2 separate regions of the Homo sapiens genome follow, and region 1 is linked to region 2. Evidence: fine-mapped expression QTL. Tissue or cell type: tibial nerve. Region 2 holds a variant in brackets; the other region holds the start of a gene. All regions are shown on one strand. Distances are from middle to middle.

Region 1 (8,096 bases), 220 kb before region 2:
GCTGGTCTTGAACTCTTCCGCTCGGGCAATCCACCCACCTTGGCCTCCCAAAGTGCTAGGATTACAGGTGTGAGCCACTACGCCCGGCCACTATTTTTTATAGTTTTTAAGGTAAAATTTACATTCACTGAAATGTTACCTGCATATTTTTTGATAAGTGAATATACCTATGTAACTCACATCCCTATCAAGATAGAGACCATTTTTACCACCCAGAAATTTCACTCATGTACCATCCCAGTCAATCCCCTGCCACAGGGAACCACTGTTATGATTTTTTTTCACCACAGATTAATTTTCTTTTCTAGAATTTCAAATAAATGGAACAGTATGACACTCTTTTGTGTCATTTATTTATCTTCACATAGATAATTCACATACTTTGTGTCATTTATCTTCACATAGATAATTCACATACTTTAAGATAAAAAAGGTACAATTTTAAACCTTTTGGGCATGCAGTAAAAATCTCCTTCCCACTGGTACCCACCAGTCACCCAGTCTTCCTCTCTCTTTCTCTCTCTTTTTTTTTTTTTTGAGACAAGATCTTTCTCTGTCGCCCAGGCTGGAGTGCAGTGGCACGATCATGGCTCACTTCGGCCTCACCCTTCCAGGCTCAAGCAATCCTCCTGCCTCAGGCTCCCAAGTAGCAGGACTACAGGTGCCTACCACCACACCTGTCTAAATTTTTTTTTGTATTTTTTTTTTGTAAAGATAGGGTTTTGCCATATTGCTCAGGCTAGTCTTAAACTCCTGATCTTAAATGATCCGCCGGCCTCAGCCTTCCAAAGTGTTTAGATTATAGGCGTGAGCCACCGTGCTTGGCTCAGTCTTCCTCTCTTGAAGCAATCAATGTTATTAGTTTTATGTGGGCCATCCCATGTCTTATCATTATTAATTCAGGTGCTTACAAAAGGCTCTTTGAGAACTGTTTTAAAGGTTACCCAAAGAATCTTGTGACAACCCAGCTAAAATGATATAAAATCAGTTTTAACATAACTGAAGTTTTTAGATTCTGATTCCAAATGTCAGATGGTGACATTTTACCTTTCTCTGACTTTATGCCAAATTTAGTTTAAGTTTTAGCATCTATAATTTTCATTTACTGAACAAATATATATTTAACAAATATGAAAATACAACCATGAAACAAACAAAATCAAATCCTGGACTTAAGGAGCTAATAGTAAAAAATTCACCAATATAACTACCCAATTACAGTTTCATGCGATGTGAAAGGAGTAAGAGACCACCATAGGGAGGTCAGAAGATGCTTCTCAGAGGTGGATACTAGAGCCGTTGTCAAAGGATGAGGACTGGGAGAACTTTCTGGGCACAGAGCAAAGCATGAGTAAAAGCTCTGTTGAGGCCAGGAAGCCGGTAAATAGGGAATAAAAGAGGCTAGCGTGGCTGGAGCACAGACAGCAGGGTGGAATTGGTCTGAGCAGTGAGAAGAGGTGGAGAGGTGGGCAAGGCACCTGGCCATTCAGGGCTTGGTTAGTTAGGAGGGTTTTTTCTAAGAGAATGGGAAAGTGTTTAAGTGGTTTAGGCTGGGAAGTGACAGGGTCACACTGTTATTTTGAAAAAGTCACTCTGCCTGTTGTGTTGAGATTAGAGAGGGGATAAAGGGAATATGGGTAAACCACAAGAAGACTAGGTCAGTAATCCCTCCACCCCCACTCCCCAGGTGAAGGTAGCCTAGACTAGGGTGGTGATGGAGGAAATAGGAGAGGACAGATTCAAGGACCATTTGTAAGGGAAAAACCAATAGAATTTGCTGACGGATGGAATATAAGAGGGGAGAGGTACATTATCAAGGATGTAGCTTAGTTTTCTTATACAAGGATTGAGTTGCAATAAAATTGTTAATTGAAATTTCTTTAAATAATGGCACAACCTAAAGTTATGCAAACATATGCCTCAGATAAAAGTTCAAGTTTTCAAAGTTTTTAGCTGGGTGGAGGGCATGGCTTTACTTCCTATTTCTTGGTATTTCCTAATCTTGTTGAAAAAAAAGTAAGGTTTTTTTTTTTTTTTTTTTCTGAAATGCTTAGTTCAGTGGAAACCCATCTGCGAATTCTGTCTTATAAATTTAAATTTAAAAATAGGGATACTAATTTCTAGACAAATAATTCCGGAGTTTCTTGTGCTGCTAATTATTATAATTTTTGTCCCTTTTTTTTTTTGAGACAGAGTATCGTTCTGTCGCCCAGGCTGGAGTGCAGTGGCGCGATCTTGGCTCACTGCAACCTCCACCTCCGTGGTTCAAGCAATTCCCCTGCCTCAGCCTCCAGAGTAGCTTGGCTGGGAGTACAGGCGCACGCCACGACGCCGGGCTATTTTTTTTTTTTGTATTTTTAGTAGAGACGGGGTTTCACCATGTTGGCCAGATTGGTCTCCAACTCCTGACCTCAGGCAATCCGCCCGCCTCGGCCTCCCAAAGTGTTGGGATTACAGGTGTGAGCCACCGCGCCCGGCTGTCACTTCTAAACATATAATGAAAGTAATCTGTATTGCCTTTTTACTTTTTCTTGCCTGCTTTTCCTGGACCAGAAATTAATAGGCTGTTTCCGTCCCAAACAAAGTACTTTCCTTCTAAGAATGTCTTCGTTGACGCTGGAGGGCTGCCCGGCTGAATCTTACGTATTCGTGCCCATGTTCTGCCCCCTGCAGTAGTCTGCATAAACCCAATGCGAAGACACGTGTAAGAGTACATTACAATTACAAGTGTCATTTACGCGTTGATTATTGTTTTTGCGAGTGCCCTAAGGCCACCTCTGGGGGAGCTCGGGGCTGCCTTCCGAAGCATGCGCGTCAGCACCGCGTGCCAGGGCCCTGAAAGTCAGGCTCCGCGTCGGTGCGGCAGCGCGAGGCCTGCAGTCCTAAGCTCGGGGTCGCTTCGGGCCCCCGAGGGGGTGTGTCTTCTACCGTTTTAACATGGAAGGGGCGGTTCCAGTGGCCGGGGAAGTCGGCGACTTGCAGGACTGAAGGCTGGTGCTTTGAAAGAGAGGCGGAGGGCGAGAGCGATTTCCCCGCCTCCTCTGCACTCCGTCCAATCCCTTCGCCTTCTCCTTTTCTCGGCCGGCCCGCCCGGCCCCTAACCTGCTCCAACCCATTCTGCGGTAGAGGCTGCCGGGTCTCTTTAAGGCCCTCCCGCGCCTGCGCCTTGGGCTCTCCTGACGCGGCCGGGCCGGACCCCGGAGGAACCAGCTGGCCAGCTGGCAAGGGGCTGGCTGCAGTTCCGACAGCGGCGGTGCCGGGAGGGGTAGGTGAGGGTCGCGAGGCGGCCCTGAGCTTCTGAGTGAGCGTGGTGCTTTTGGGAACTCGGGACGGGCGACCCGTGGAGCCAGGAGCGGGGCCGAGGCGCTGAGACGCGGCGGCGCGGCTGCCGGCTGGATGGGAAGTTAATGTTTACGGCGAAGTCTACTCAACGTTTCCAAGGTGAGGGGCGCTGCGCCAGGCCGGGCGGGCCGGGAGGCCGGGCGGGCGGTGAGTCCGTGTTCCGCTGGCGCACAGCTGGGCCGAGGCGCGGCGGGCGGGGGCCGCCGCAAGTTTTGCTGTGGGAGCGGGGCGGGCGCGCCTGGCCCCGCCAGGGCCTAAGTTCCCTGCACTCGCTTCCTCGCCTGTCGCCGCCGCCGCCGCCCGCAGCCCTCCTTCTCGTGGGCGCTGGGGAAGAAACTCGTCGGCGGGTCTAACTGTGGCGTCCCAGGGCGGTGGAGGGACGGAGCAGCTTCGGGGGCACGTCCTCGTAAATCCCGTGGAGGACACTGACCCTGCACCCCACCCTCGAGGCCAGAAGTCGGTTCCCTTTGGGGACCTGAGGGGCGAGAGCACTCGCCCCCCTGACTTGCAAAGTTGGCGTCTTTACTTGGCCTCCGGGATTCTGCGCATGGCGTGTCTCCAGGCTGCTGATGGGCAAGACAGATGTGCCAGGTCCAGAATGAACTTGAGAAGAGTTTGTAGCCATTCCTGAATCACCTTATGACTAGTGGGGCAAGCCTCAAATTAACCTCAGGATTTCCGGTAGGTTGGATTGTGGTGTTGGTGTTTCCACTCAAAAGAGTTGCTGTGATTTCCCTGTGTCTGTCTGTCTGTCTGTCTTTGGGGCTTCTTAGATCATCTCATTTGGCATCCTTTCACCCAAGAGTTAAACCAAGCCTTTTGGAATGGTTTCCTCGCTTTCCTCCTATCTATTGCTGGTAGAGCTGCTTTCGAAAAGAAGTATTTTCTTGAAGTGGTATCTTTTCTTTGGGTTACAGTGTTGAATAATAAACTCCTTTCTTTGCCGAAAGAATGAATTCCAGTGCTTACTGAAGTTAAAGAAAAGTGATCTGCTGGTAGTTTTTAATCTTTGTTCTGAGCTGATGTAAGTAACTTTTTTTGTTTTAAAATTTTGTTAGTAGAATTTCACCAGTGTACCAGAAGCTCTTTTTCTTTTTCTTTTCTTTTCTTTTTTTTTTTTTTTTTTGACAGGGAGTCTCGCTCTGTCGCCAGACTGGAGTGCAGTGGCGACGTTGGTTCACTGCAACCTCCACCTCCTGCGTTTAAGCAATTCTCCTGCCTCAGCCCCGCGAGTAGCTGGGACTACAGGCGCGCGCCACCACTCCCAGCTAATTTTTGTATTTTTAGTAGAGATGAGGTTTCACCATGTTGGCCACGATGGTCTTGATCTCTTGACCTCGTGTTCCACCCGCCTCAGCCTCCCAAAGTGTTGGGGTTACAGGCGTGAGCCACCGTGCCCGGCCTTCTTTTTCTTTTCTTTTCTTTTCTTTTTTTTTTTTTTTTTTTTTTTTAAGGCTGAGTCTCACTCTGTTGCCTAGGCTGGATATATTCTCCTGCCTCAGCCTCCCGAGTAGCTGGGATTACAGGCGTACATCACCACGCCCGGCTAATTTTTTTTTTTTTGTATTTTTAGTAGAAACGGGGTTTCACCGTGTTGGTCAGGCTGGTCTCGAACTCCTGACCTCAAATGATCTGCCCGCCTCGGCCTTCGAAAGTGCTGGGATTACAGGCGTGAGCCAGCGCACCTGGCCCAGGTGGTCTTTTTTCTGTTCTAAAATGATAACTACGATTTCCGAGAACTTTGTGTCAAATAAATCTTAGAACTAAGTTATTGAAGTATAGAGAAAAAGTTCACAATTCTAAATGTGCAGGTGGTCTGGGTGCGGTGGCTCACGCATGTGATCCTAGCATTTTGGGAGGCAGAGGCAGGTGGATCACTTGAGCCCAGGAGTTTGAGACCAGCCAGGGCAACGTGGCAAAACCCCATTTTCTACTAAAAATACAAAAATTAGCTGGGTGTGGTTGTGTGCGCTGGTAGTCCGAGCTACCCAGGAGGCTGAGGTGGGAGGATCACCAAAGCCGGGGAGGTCGAAGTTGCAGTGAGCCTTGATCATGCCACTGCACTCCAGCCTGAGCGGCAGAGTGAGACCGTCTTTCAAAAAAAACAAAAACAAAAAACATCGCAGGTAATGAATTTTTACTAAGTGAACCACCAAAGATCAAGAAATAGGACATTACTAGATTGGAGTATGTACGTAGGAGTGGCATTGTTGGTTTTATAGGTACGTGGGTGATAAAACTCTAGTATTAGAAATTGTTGAACATTTTCCCAAAGTGGTTCTACCAATTAGCAGGGAATGTTCCGGTTACCCCACATCCTTGCTGGTGCTTGTCAGTTGAAATTTTTTTTGCTAGTCTAGTAGAGGTACAGTAATATATCAGTGTGGTTTCATTTTGCATTTTCCTGGTACTGAGGTTGAGTATCTTTTGTTGACCATTTATATTTCCTCTTGTGAAGTGCCTGTTAAGTCTTTTTGCCCAGTTTTCGTTGATATGCTTATTTTTCTCTCATTTATAATGCTTTATTCTGGATATGAGTCCTTTCTAGGATATATATGTATTGCATTTTTATTTTTTTCAGTCTGTATTTTGCCTTTTCAGTCTTTTAATGGTGTTTTTTTTCATGCCTGGAGATTCTTAATTTGTGTGTGTGTGTGTTTTTTGTTTGTTTGTTTTGTAAGATGGAGTCTCACTCTGTTGCCAGGCTAGAGTGCAGTGGCGCGATCTCGGCTCACTGCACCCTCGCCTCCCGGGTTCAAGCAATTCTCCTGCCTCAGCCTACTGAGTAGCTGGGACTATAGGTGTGTGCCACCATGCCCGGCTAATTTTTGTATTTTTAGTAGAGACAGGGCTTCACCATGTTGGCCAGGGTGGTCTTGATTTCTTGACCTCATGATCCATCCACCTCGGCCTCCTAAAGTGCTGGGATTACAGGTGTGAGCCACCGTGCCTGGCCTTTTTTTTTTTTTTTTTTTTTTTTGAGACAGAATCTCACTCTGTTGCCCAGGTTGGAGTGCAGTGGCACGATCACGGCTCACTGCAATCTTGATCTCCCAAGACTCAGGTATTCCTCCTGCCTTAACCCCCAAGTAGCTGGAACTACAGATGAGCACCACCATGCCCAGCTAATTTTTGTATCTTTAGTGGAAATGGGGTTTTGCCATGTTGCATAGGCTGGTCTCGAACTCCTGGGCTCAAGTCATACACCTACACCAGCCTCAGCCTCCCAAAGTGTTGTGATTACAGGCATGAACCACTGCACCCAGCCTGAGATTCTTAATTTTAATGAAGTATACTTTATCAATCTTGTCCTTTATGGTTACTGCTTTTTGTGTCCTATTTAAGAAATCAATGCCTAACCTGAGAATATGAACATATTTTTCTGTGTTGTCTTATAGCAATTTTATTTTACTTTTTGCAAAAAAAATTTTTTTTTTTTTCAGACAGGGTCTGAAGTGCAGTGGTGCAGTCTCAGAACACTGCAACCTCCGCCTCCTGTGCTCAAGCATTCCTCCCACCTCAGCCTCCTGAGTAGCTGTGACTACGACTACAGGCATATGCCACCATGCCTGGCTAATTTTTGTATGTTTTGTAGAGTCAGGGTTTCAACATATTACCCAGGCTGGTCTCAAACTCTTGGGCTCAAGCAATCTGCCCTCTTCGGCTTCCCAAAGTGCTGGGATTACAGGTGTGAGCCACTGTACCCATCCCCTACTTTTTGCATTTAAGGTATATAATTTAGAGTAAATTCTTGATGAATCGCAGGGGTCAAGATTCACTTTTTAGGCCGGGCGTGGTGGCTCATGCCTGAAATCCCAGCACTTTGGGAGGCCGAGGCGAGCGGATCATGAGGTCAGGAGTTTGAGACCAGCCTAGCCAACATGGCGAAACCCTGTCTCTACTAAAAATACAAAAATTAGCTGGGCGTGGTGGCGGGTGCCTGTAATCCCAGCTACTCAGGAGGCTGAGGCAGGAGAATCGCTTGAACCTAGGAGGCAGAGGTTGCAGTGAGCCGAGATTGTGCCATTGCACTCTAGCCTGGGCGACAGAGTGAGACTCGGTCTCAAAAAAAAAAAAAAAAATTTACTTTTTTTTTTCTTTGAGACAAGGTCTCACTGTATCACCCAGGCTGGAGTGCAGTAACATGATCTCCACCTGCTTTGACCTCCCAAAGTGCTGGGATTTAGGCATGACCCACTGCACCGGGCCAAGATTCACTTTTTTCTATATAGACGTCTGTTTGATCCAGCACCATTTATTGCAAATACCATCCTTGTCCATCTGCACTGTGTGGCACTTTTTTTCATAAATTAGATAACAGTATGGTCAGCTAATTTATGAAATTAGTGTGGGTCTGTTTCTGGATACTTTGTTCTATTTGTATATTTGTCATCCTTGCACTAATATCACTGTATTAATGTAACTTTATAATAAGCTTTGATATGTGGTAATATAAGCTCTCCAACTTTGAGAGGTGGGCAAAGAAAGTGGGCTGTGGGCAGGGGCTGCTTTTCATCAAACACACTTCTGTTTAACCCCTTGGCTTTCAGCCTTGAGCCTTACTTTACTTTTCTTGAGTCTGGAGTCTCACAGGTGTATTAGTCTGTTCTCATGCTGCTATGAAGAATACCCAAGACGGGGTAATTTATAAAGAAAAGAGGTGTAATTGACTTACAGTGCCATATGGCTGGGGAGGCATCAGGAAACTTACAACCATGGTGGAAAGCACCTCTTCACAGGGGAACAGGAGAGCG
Region 2 (8,107 bases):
GCATATTTGGAATATAGTAATTGTTAAATAAGACAGTTTTGGCTTAGATAACTGTATCTGATATTAGTATGTGTAAATATGCAGTTATGCATTGCTTAACTAGAATATGTTCTGAGAAATTCATACTTAGGCAATGTCATCAGTGTGTGAATCATAGAGTGTGCTTACACAAACCCAGATGGTATAGCCTACTACTCACCTAGGCTATATGGTATAGCCTATTTCTCCTAGGCTACAAACCTATACAACATGTTACTCTACTGAATACTGTAGGCGGTTGTAACACAATGGTCAGAAGTTGTGTATCTAAACATAGAAGAGGTACAGTAAAAATATGATATAAAAGATTTAAAATGGTACACCTGTATAGAGCATGGTACCATGAATGGAGCTTGCAGGACTGAAAGTTGCTTTGGGTGAGTCAGTGAGTGAATGGCCTACATTACTGCACACTACTGTAGACTTTATAAACACAGTACAGTTAATCTATACTGTAAATTTATTTTCTTTTTCTTCAATAATAAATTAACCTTAGCTTAGTGTAACTTTTTCACTTTATAAACTTAATTTTTTTTAACTTTTTGACTCTTATAATAACACTTAGTTTAAATATATTGTATGGCTGTACAAAAATATCTTCTTTCTCTGTGTCTTTATTCTATAAGCTGTTTTTTTAACTCTTTAAACTTTTTTATTAAAAACTTAGGCACATGGCCGAGCGTGGTGGCTCACGCCTGTAAATCCCAGCACTTTGGGAGGCCAAGGCGGGTGGGCGGAACACTTGAGGCCAGGAGTTCAAGACCAGACTGGCCAATGTGGTGAAACCCCGTCTCTAATAAAAATATAAAAATTAGCTAGGCATGGTGGTGTGCGTCTGTAGTCCCAGCTACTCAGAAGGCTGAGGCACGAGAATCGCTTGAACTTGGGAGGTGGAGGTTGCAGTGAGCCGAGATTGTGCCATTGCACCCCAGCCTGGACAGAGGGGCACTCTGCCTCAAAAAAAAAAAAAAAAAAAAAAAAGCAGGCACACACATTATTCTCTGCTTACATAGGGTCAAGATCATCAGGATCACTGTCTTCTACCTCTACATCTTGTCCCACTGGAAGATCTTCAGGGGCAATAGTATTACACATGGAGCTGTCATCTCCTATGAGAACAATGCTTTCTTCTGGAATATCTCTTGTAGGACCAGGCTGAAGCTTACAGTTAATTTTTCTTGTATAAATAAAAAGAATACACTAAAATAATAAAAAATATAGTATGTTAAATACATAAATCTGTAACATAGTCATTTATTATTGTCAATTATTATCCACTGTGCATAATTGTATATGCCATACATTTATACAACTGGCAGCACAGTAGATTTCTTTACACCAGCACCACCACAAACACGAGTAATGTGTTTTACTATGACATTGTACAACTACAATGTCACTAGGCATTACGAATTTCTTATTATAATCTTATGGGACCATCATCATGTATTCATTCCGTCATTGACCAAAACATCATTATGTGGAACATGACTGCATAAGAAAAAATTTTTAAGTCTATAGAAGCTGTAGTTGGGCTTTTATATCTATGCAAATATTAATTACACTAAACCACTTCAGCAGGCCATATTCTAGTAAAAGGTTTTTAAGACAGATTGTCAAAAGAAAGAGAACAAAGCAAAACAAACAAAAAACAGGGAGTTTTTAGGAATAAGTCGATGAAAGGAGTTGAAGAACAAACTAAGGGTAGTTAGAGATACAATTTGGGTAGGGAGGACAGTTAACACAGAACAGCAGTGTTGTTGGAAAGATGCTTGACCCTATAGGAGTGCTACCCACTCTGTCGCTAGAACATTTCTTTTTTTTTTTTTTTTTTTTGCTCGGGCTGGAATGCAGTGGCGCAATCTCAGCTCACTGCAACCTGCGCCTCCCAGGTTCAAGCGATTCTCCTGCCTCAGCCTCCTGAGTAGCTGGGATTACAGGCACACACTACCACACCCGGCTAATCGTTTGTATTTTTAGTAGAGACAGGGTTTCACCATGTTGGCCAGGCTGGTCTTGAATTCCTGACCTCAGGTGATCCACCTGCCTCGGCCTCCTGAAGTGCTGGGATTACAGGCATGAGCCACCGCGCCTGGCCTGTTGCTAGAACAGTTCTATTTGGTACTTCCTGCCAATGATGTTAGTATACAGTATGTAGGATGAAGTTGGAGGGTAGAGTTGACCAGTCAGAGGACTAAGTCAGAGGATGTTCAAGGTCCCTTCTGACTGTGATTTTAAATATGGGAGGAATCTCCACATTGACAAATGCTTTTCACAGCAACCCATTTCTCTCAAGGTAATTGTAAGACACGTTTTAAACCTGCTTTTAAAAAAACCTGTAAATACTTGGATATTACTAAGGTAACTTTTACAGGAATTTCAAAGCTCTCTAAAGTTAGAATGTGTATCTTTCTGCTCCATATGTACTGATATTGAATGATCTTCAAGTTGTATTATTGAGAGATAATAGCAAAGTACAGAGTAGCATACATAGTGTCTGTAGTATGGATAAACGTGTGCATGTATTCATGTGTGTTTGATTATATATGTGTAAAATATCGTGGAAAGACTACACCAAAAAACTGTTAACAATTGTTGTCTCCATGAAAGGAAACTGGGTGATTGGCAACTGTTAAAAGTAAGCCCATACTCTTTTGGTATCAGGAGTTACTCAGTAGTTTCAGTAGATGGCTCCGGATCAGAGCTGCTTAACATTTTAAGCATCAACACATGGCTTCCTAATTATAAATAATCTGGAGACATCAAAAACAATTCTAGTTTCACTGTTTAATAAGTTCTTTATCTAGGCCAGGCATGGTGGCTCACGCTGTAATCTCAGCACTTTGGGAGGCCAAGGTGGGCGGATCACCTGAGGTCAGGGGTTCGAAACCAGCCTGGCCAACATGGCAAAACCCTGTCTCTACTAAAAATACAAAAATTAGCCAGGCGCAGTGCTGGGCACCTGTAATCCCAGCTACTCAGGAGGCTGAGGCAGGAGAATTGCTTGAACCCAGGTGGCAGAGGTTGCAATGAGCCGAAATCGCGCCATTGCACTCCAGCCTGGGTGACAGCGAGAGTCCATCTCAAAAAAAAAAAAAAAAATCTTTATCTGAAAAATAATTTATGTTCGTTTTCAGGTGGTATAAGAAAAAGTGCCTCTCTTCACCAATCTATATCCCTAGAAAATAGTCCCAGTGCTCACCTGAAACAAACTCTTAGGATCAGAAGCAGCTTTTAATCAGCTGTATCTGGGACTTCCAGTCCACATCGAGAGCTAATTAACCAGAGGAGACTCAAAGTTGTCCTCCCCTTTTTAGAGTGATTTGGACAACTTTTTCTTTTTTTTCCCCCCTTTTCTGTTCCCCAAGCAAAAGCAGATTCCCAAGAATGAAAGAATATGGGAAGCTTGCCATCTTCTTGACTAAGTATTGAATCCCTTACGGTATGAATAGAAAATCATCTGCCCTCAAAATAACTAGATAAATTACTTTGAAATTCTAGGGTAATTTTTTCATCAGTAGATCCATTCAATTACTGATTTCTGAGACTCTTTCAAAAGATATATTTTATAAATTATATTTATTATAAACAACCTTTATTAAGCATTTTTAAAGAAATAATCACACCTGAGGTCAGAAGTTTGAGACCAGCCTGACCAGCATGGAGAAACCCTGTGTCTACTAAAAATACAAAATTAGCCAGGCGTGGTGGCACATGCCTGTTAATCCCAGCTACTCTAGAGGCTGAGGCAAGAGAATTGCTTGAACCCGGGAGGCAGAGGTTGCGGTGAGCCGAGATGGCACCGTTGCACTCCATCCAGCCTGGGCAACAAGAACGAAACTCTGTTTCTAAATAAATAAATTAATTAATTAATTAAAGCATAGTTCATTATGAATTGTTTGTCAGAGGTAGTTTGAGAATGGATTTGTTCAGAATTCAGGTGATTAAAGGGTATGTGCCTATGCTTTTCCTATACCTTGAACTATTTGAGTACATGCTGTGAAAAATTGCCTCTTGTTTTTGCTTTGTTGTTTTGTCACAAAACAGAAAGAAGAAGGAAAGCTTCAAGGACAGCTTAACAAGTCTGATTCTAACCAGTATATTGGGGAACTGAAAGATCAGATAGCAGAGCTGAATCATGAGGTAAGTGATAAATTTTGATCTTCACATATTGCTTTCTTCCTTCCTCTGTATTGTAACAACACTTTATTACTGGTTATAAGACTGACACTTTCATGCTGAATATCTTCTGTGAATTATTGGTTATAATTAATAACATTTTTGAAAATTGTCTTTTTAGCAAGGATCTTCTGTTCTAATATTGGGGATTTATTTCCCTTAACCTCATTAGCATGACCTAGAATGATAAATTAATATTTTCATGGCAAATATTTTATTTTTTTATTGTGGTGTAAAAACTCTTGATAGTTTGCATAGATGTCAAAGTTACTTTAACTAAACTAAAATTTTGCTTATACCTATAGAATAGATTTGTGGTATTTACCGTTGCATGCAGAAGGAAGTCTTTTTACTCTTGTCTTCTTTTACC[G/C]CTCATGATGGTATTACTGAGATTGCAAAAAAGGATACTTGCCTAATATCAGTTAACAGATTTCTTAGTATCTGAATGCTTTTTAAACTGGTACTACCTTGAATCTGTGAGATTCAACTCACAAAATTTTCAGTTTTACCAAGTACTATACTGAGTAATTTAAAGTATTTAGTATGTTTTGATTAGAGAGATATGTTAATGTGGCTCGAGGTCAATTTTCTTATCCTTTATTATTTTCTGTTTTAATGATAATATTTGGCTAAACACTAATGGAATACCATCTTTCTTGTTTTGAATTATTTATAAAATAATGTTTATTCACAGTGATGAGATTTGAGAGGGTAGTATAACCTTTATTTGTTTAAAAAGAAGAAGAAAGAGAAATTTTGACCACTAGATGAATTTAAACCTCACAGGAAAAAGTTTAGACGTTACCCTTTCCTGGTATTACACCCTTCAGTTAAAGTCTGTATGTTTTGGGTAATACCTCCTGGAGGTAGTCAGTCTAAGAGTTAATTCTAAATGAAGAAGAAACAAAACATAAACAAAAACAGTAAATCTTAGATGTGGCTCAGTTTAATTTGTTTTGAAATTTGGGGAATCATTCCTGTAAATATCAATTTTCAGCCATGATAACATATGAGGGATTCAGGATCTTACATATAATCTTTACCTATTTGTGTGTATTTATTATAATTTTTTTTTTTAGACGGAGTCTCGCTCTGTCGGCCAGGCTGGAGTGCAGTGGTGCAATCTCTGCTCACTGCAAGCTCCGCCTCCCAGGTTCATGCCATTCTTCTGCCTCAGCCTTCTGAGTAGCTGGGACTACAGGCGCCCGCCACCAGGCTGGCTAATTTTTTGTATTTTTTTAGTAGAGACGGGGTTTCACTGTGTTAGCCAGGATGGTCCTGATCTCCTGACCTCATGATCCGCCCGTCTCAGCCTCCCAAAGTGCTGGGATTACAGGCATGAGCCACTGCACCTGGCCTATTATAATATTTTTAAATCGATAGCCATAGTGTGAAAGAACAAGTTACAATTAAGTGTGTTGTAGAAATCTTTATTCTTTTGAGAACCCCAGGAATTATTTATGTTCAAAAGGTGTTCTCAGAGGAAATTGTGATTAAAATAAAGCAACCTCCCATTTAAAATTTTGATGTCTCATTATAAGGAAGCTTTAATGTTGCTGAAACAAGAAAGTTACGTATAGATTGACTTTATTTCTAAAACTAATGTAAAAGTCAGTCAACAAACATTAACTTTCCCTGTCATATGCTTTGACTAAAAATAATGATATTCTGACCAGGTGTGGGCGCACGCCTATAATCCCAGCACTTTGGGAGGCTGAAGCAGGCAGATCACTTGAGGTCAGGAGTTTGAGACCAGCCCATCCAACATGGTGAAACCCCTATCTCTACTAAAAATACAAAAATTAGCCAGGCATGGTGGTGTGTGCCTGTAACCTAGCTACTGGGGAGGCTGGGGCAGGAGAATCGCTTGAACCTGTGAGGCGGAGGTTGCAGTGAGCTGAGATCATGCCACTGCACTCCAGGCAGCAGAGTGAGACTCTGATAGATAGATAGATAGATAGATAGATAGATAGATAGATAGATAGATAGATAGATAGGATAGATTAGATAGATAGATAGATAGATAGATAGATAGATAGATAGATAGATAGTCAGTCTCATCAGGACTGCCAGAAAATAACTCACATGAAGTTTAACTTTAATGTCAGTTTTTTACGTGTGGCCTAAGAAAGCAGTCTTACCTTATACAAACATGAAAAGAAAATTAATCAACAGAGTAGAATTTTCTACTGTTAAAATTAAAAGCTAGATTGTGCAGATTTAAAGAGTGGAAACCAAACTGCATCTTTTTGAAAAGAAAGGAAAAAAAACCTTTAAAGCATTTTTATTTATTAATACCCTTCCTTGTTGCAGATAGAATTAAGGAAATTTGCAACTGCTACAAAATAATAAACTACAATTTTGGGAGAAAAAGGAAAGAAAAAAACTGTAGAAATATAATATGGAAGCATGAATAAGACCATTATAAAAATGCTTACCATAAAAATATCTCTTTCCTGTAAGTGGGCCTCAGATTTGGCTCTAAGGCTTTTAGCAGCCAACGCAAAAGAAAACCTGGTCACTTAAACATTTCAGAGTGTCTATGTGATGAAAACAGACCAATTAGCTAGAAGAGCCACATCTATTCCTGATACTAAGATTAAATAACAAGTTCTCCACTGCTTCCTCACAAAGGAGACCTAGTGAGTTCCCTGGTTATTATCCTTAACATTTGAATGGCTTCATAATCATGAAAGTTAGATAAAGAACAGAAGCTTTAAAAAAAAAAAAAAGCTTTTGTAGGCTGGGTGCAATGGCTCATGCCTGTAATCCCAGCACTTTGGGAGACCGAGGTTGGAGGGTCACTTTAGCCCAGGAGTTCGAGACCAGCCCGAGCAATATAGGGAGACCCCATCTCTATTAAAAATAATAATAATAAATGCCAGGCCTGGTGGCATGCACCTGTGGCCCCAGCCACTCCAGTGGCCGAGGCAGGAGGATCACTTGAACCCAGGAGGTCAAGGCTGCAGTGAACCGTGATCACTGAAACGTGATCACCACTGCACTCCAGCCTGGGTGTCAAAGCAAGACCCTGTCTCAAAAAAAAAAGAAAAAAAAGTTTTGTATAGCAGCATAGCATACAGAGACGTGTCCAAGTCAAAAGTTTACAGCTCAATAAATTATCACAAAATGATCACACTCATGTAGGTACTACCTAGGTCCAAGAAATAGACCCAAGAGCCCTGTTCATACTCTTTCAACCCGTACTCTCTCCCTTCTACTCAAAGGTAACCATGATCTCAGACTTCTAATACAGTAGTTTAACTTTTTGAACTTTATATAAATGGATTCTTGCAGTATGTTTTCTTTTGTGTCTTGCTTGTTTTGCTCAACATTGTTTGTGAGATTTTACTTTGTCATTTTAAAATGTAGCTGTAGGTTGTTCATTTTCATCACTGTGTAATTTTCCTTTGCATAAATATACCATGATTTATTCATCTACTGTGTTGGTGAACATTTGGATTATTTCCAGTTGGTCTGTTAAGAACATTGCTTTAAGTGATTTATGCCAGTTTATACTGTCTATAAGCAGTGAAGAAAGTTCTTACTGTTCTACATCCTCATCAACATGTGGAATTGTCAGTCTTTCTTATTTTAGCCATTCTGTGACTATGAAGAGATTTCTCATTATGGTTTTAATGTGCATTTCCCTGATTATTAATGAGATTGAGTACTTTTCCCCCAGTATATAGAACAATGATGGCATGTAGTAGGTACTATGTGAAAATGTTTCTAATGAAAAAATGATGTTTGTGAAAGGTTTTGCAGATGAGGTCACATATAAGTTGCATGGGAATGCCAAGAAGCTTTTTTTTTTTTTTTTTTTTTTTTTGAGAGGGAGTCTTGCTCTGTCTCCCAGGCTGGAGTGCACTGGCGCGATCTTGGCTCA

Alleles and levels. Alleles are on the strand shown, and positions count from the first base shown. SD is a standard deviation of normalised expression in the study named.
In carriers of allele G in region 2, the expression in tibial nerve of the gene that starts at base 3,169 in region 1 tends to be higher than with C alone (small effect, 0.34 SD a copy in GTEx).

The links. PIP is the estimated chance that this variant, and not a neighbour inherited with it, causes the effect.
Region 1: EVI5 starts here. The variant in region 2 is fine-mapped to the expression of EVI5 in tibial nerve (GTEx, PIP 0.92).

The regions. Positions count from the first base shown.
Region 1 is chr1:92,780,181-92,788,276 of GRCh38, reverse strand. It overlaps EVI5 (ecotropic viral integration site 5), which reads left to right and starts at 3,169. Exons shown (of 20, transcript NM_001350197.2): 1 at 3,169-3,441. RefSeq lists an enhancer at 2,769-3,048 and a silencer at 3,319-3,588.
Region 2 is chr1:92,559,717-92,567,823 of GRCh38, reverse strand. EVI5 (ecotropic viral integration site 5) reads left to right here. Exons shown (of 20, transcript NM_001350197.2): 19 at 4,087-4,182. Among named protein-coding and RNA genes, the nearest start is that of GFI1, 77 kb to the right of the region's middle. The variant G/C (reference allele first, on the strand shown) is at 4,589.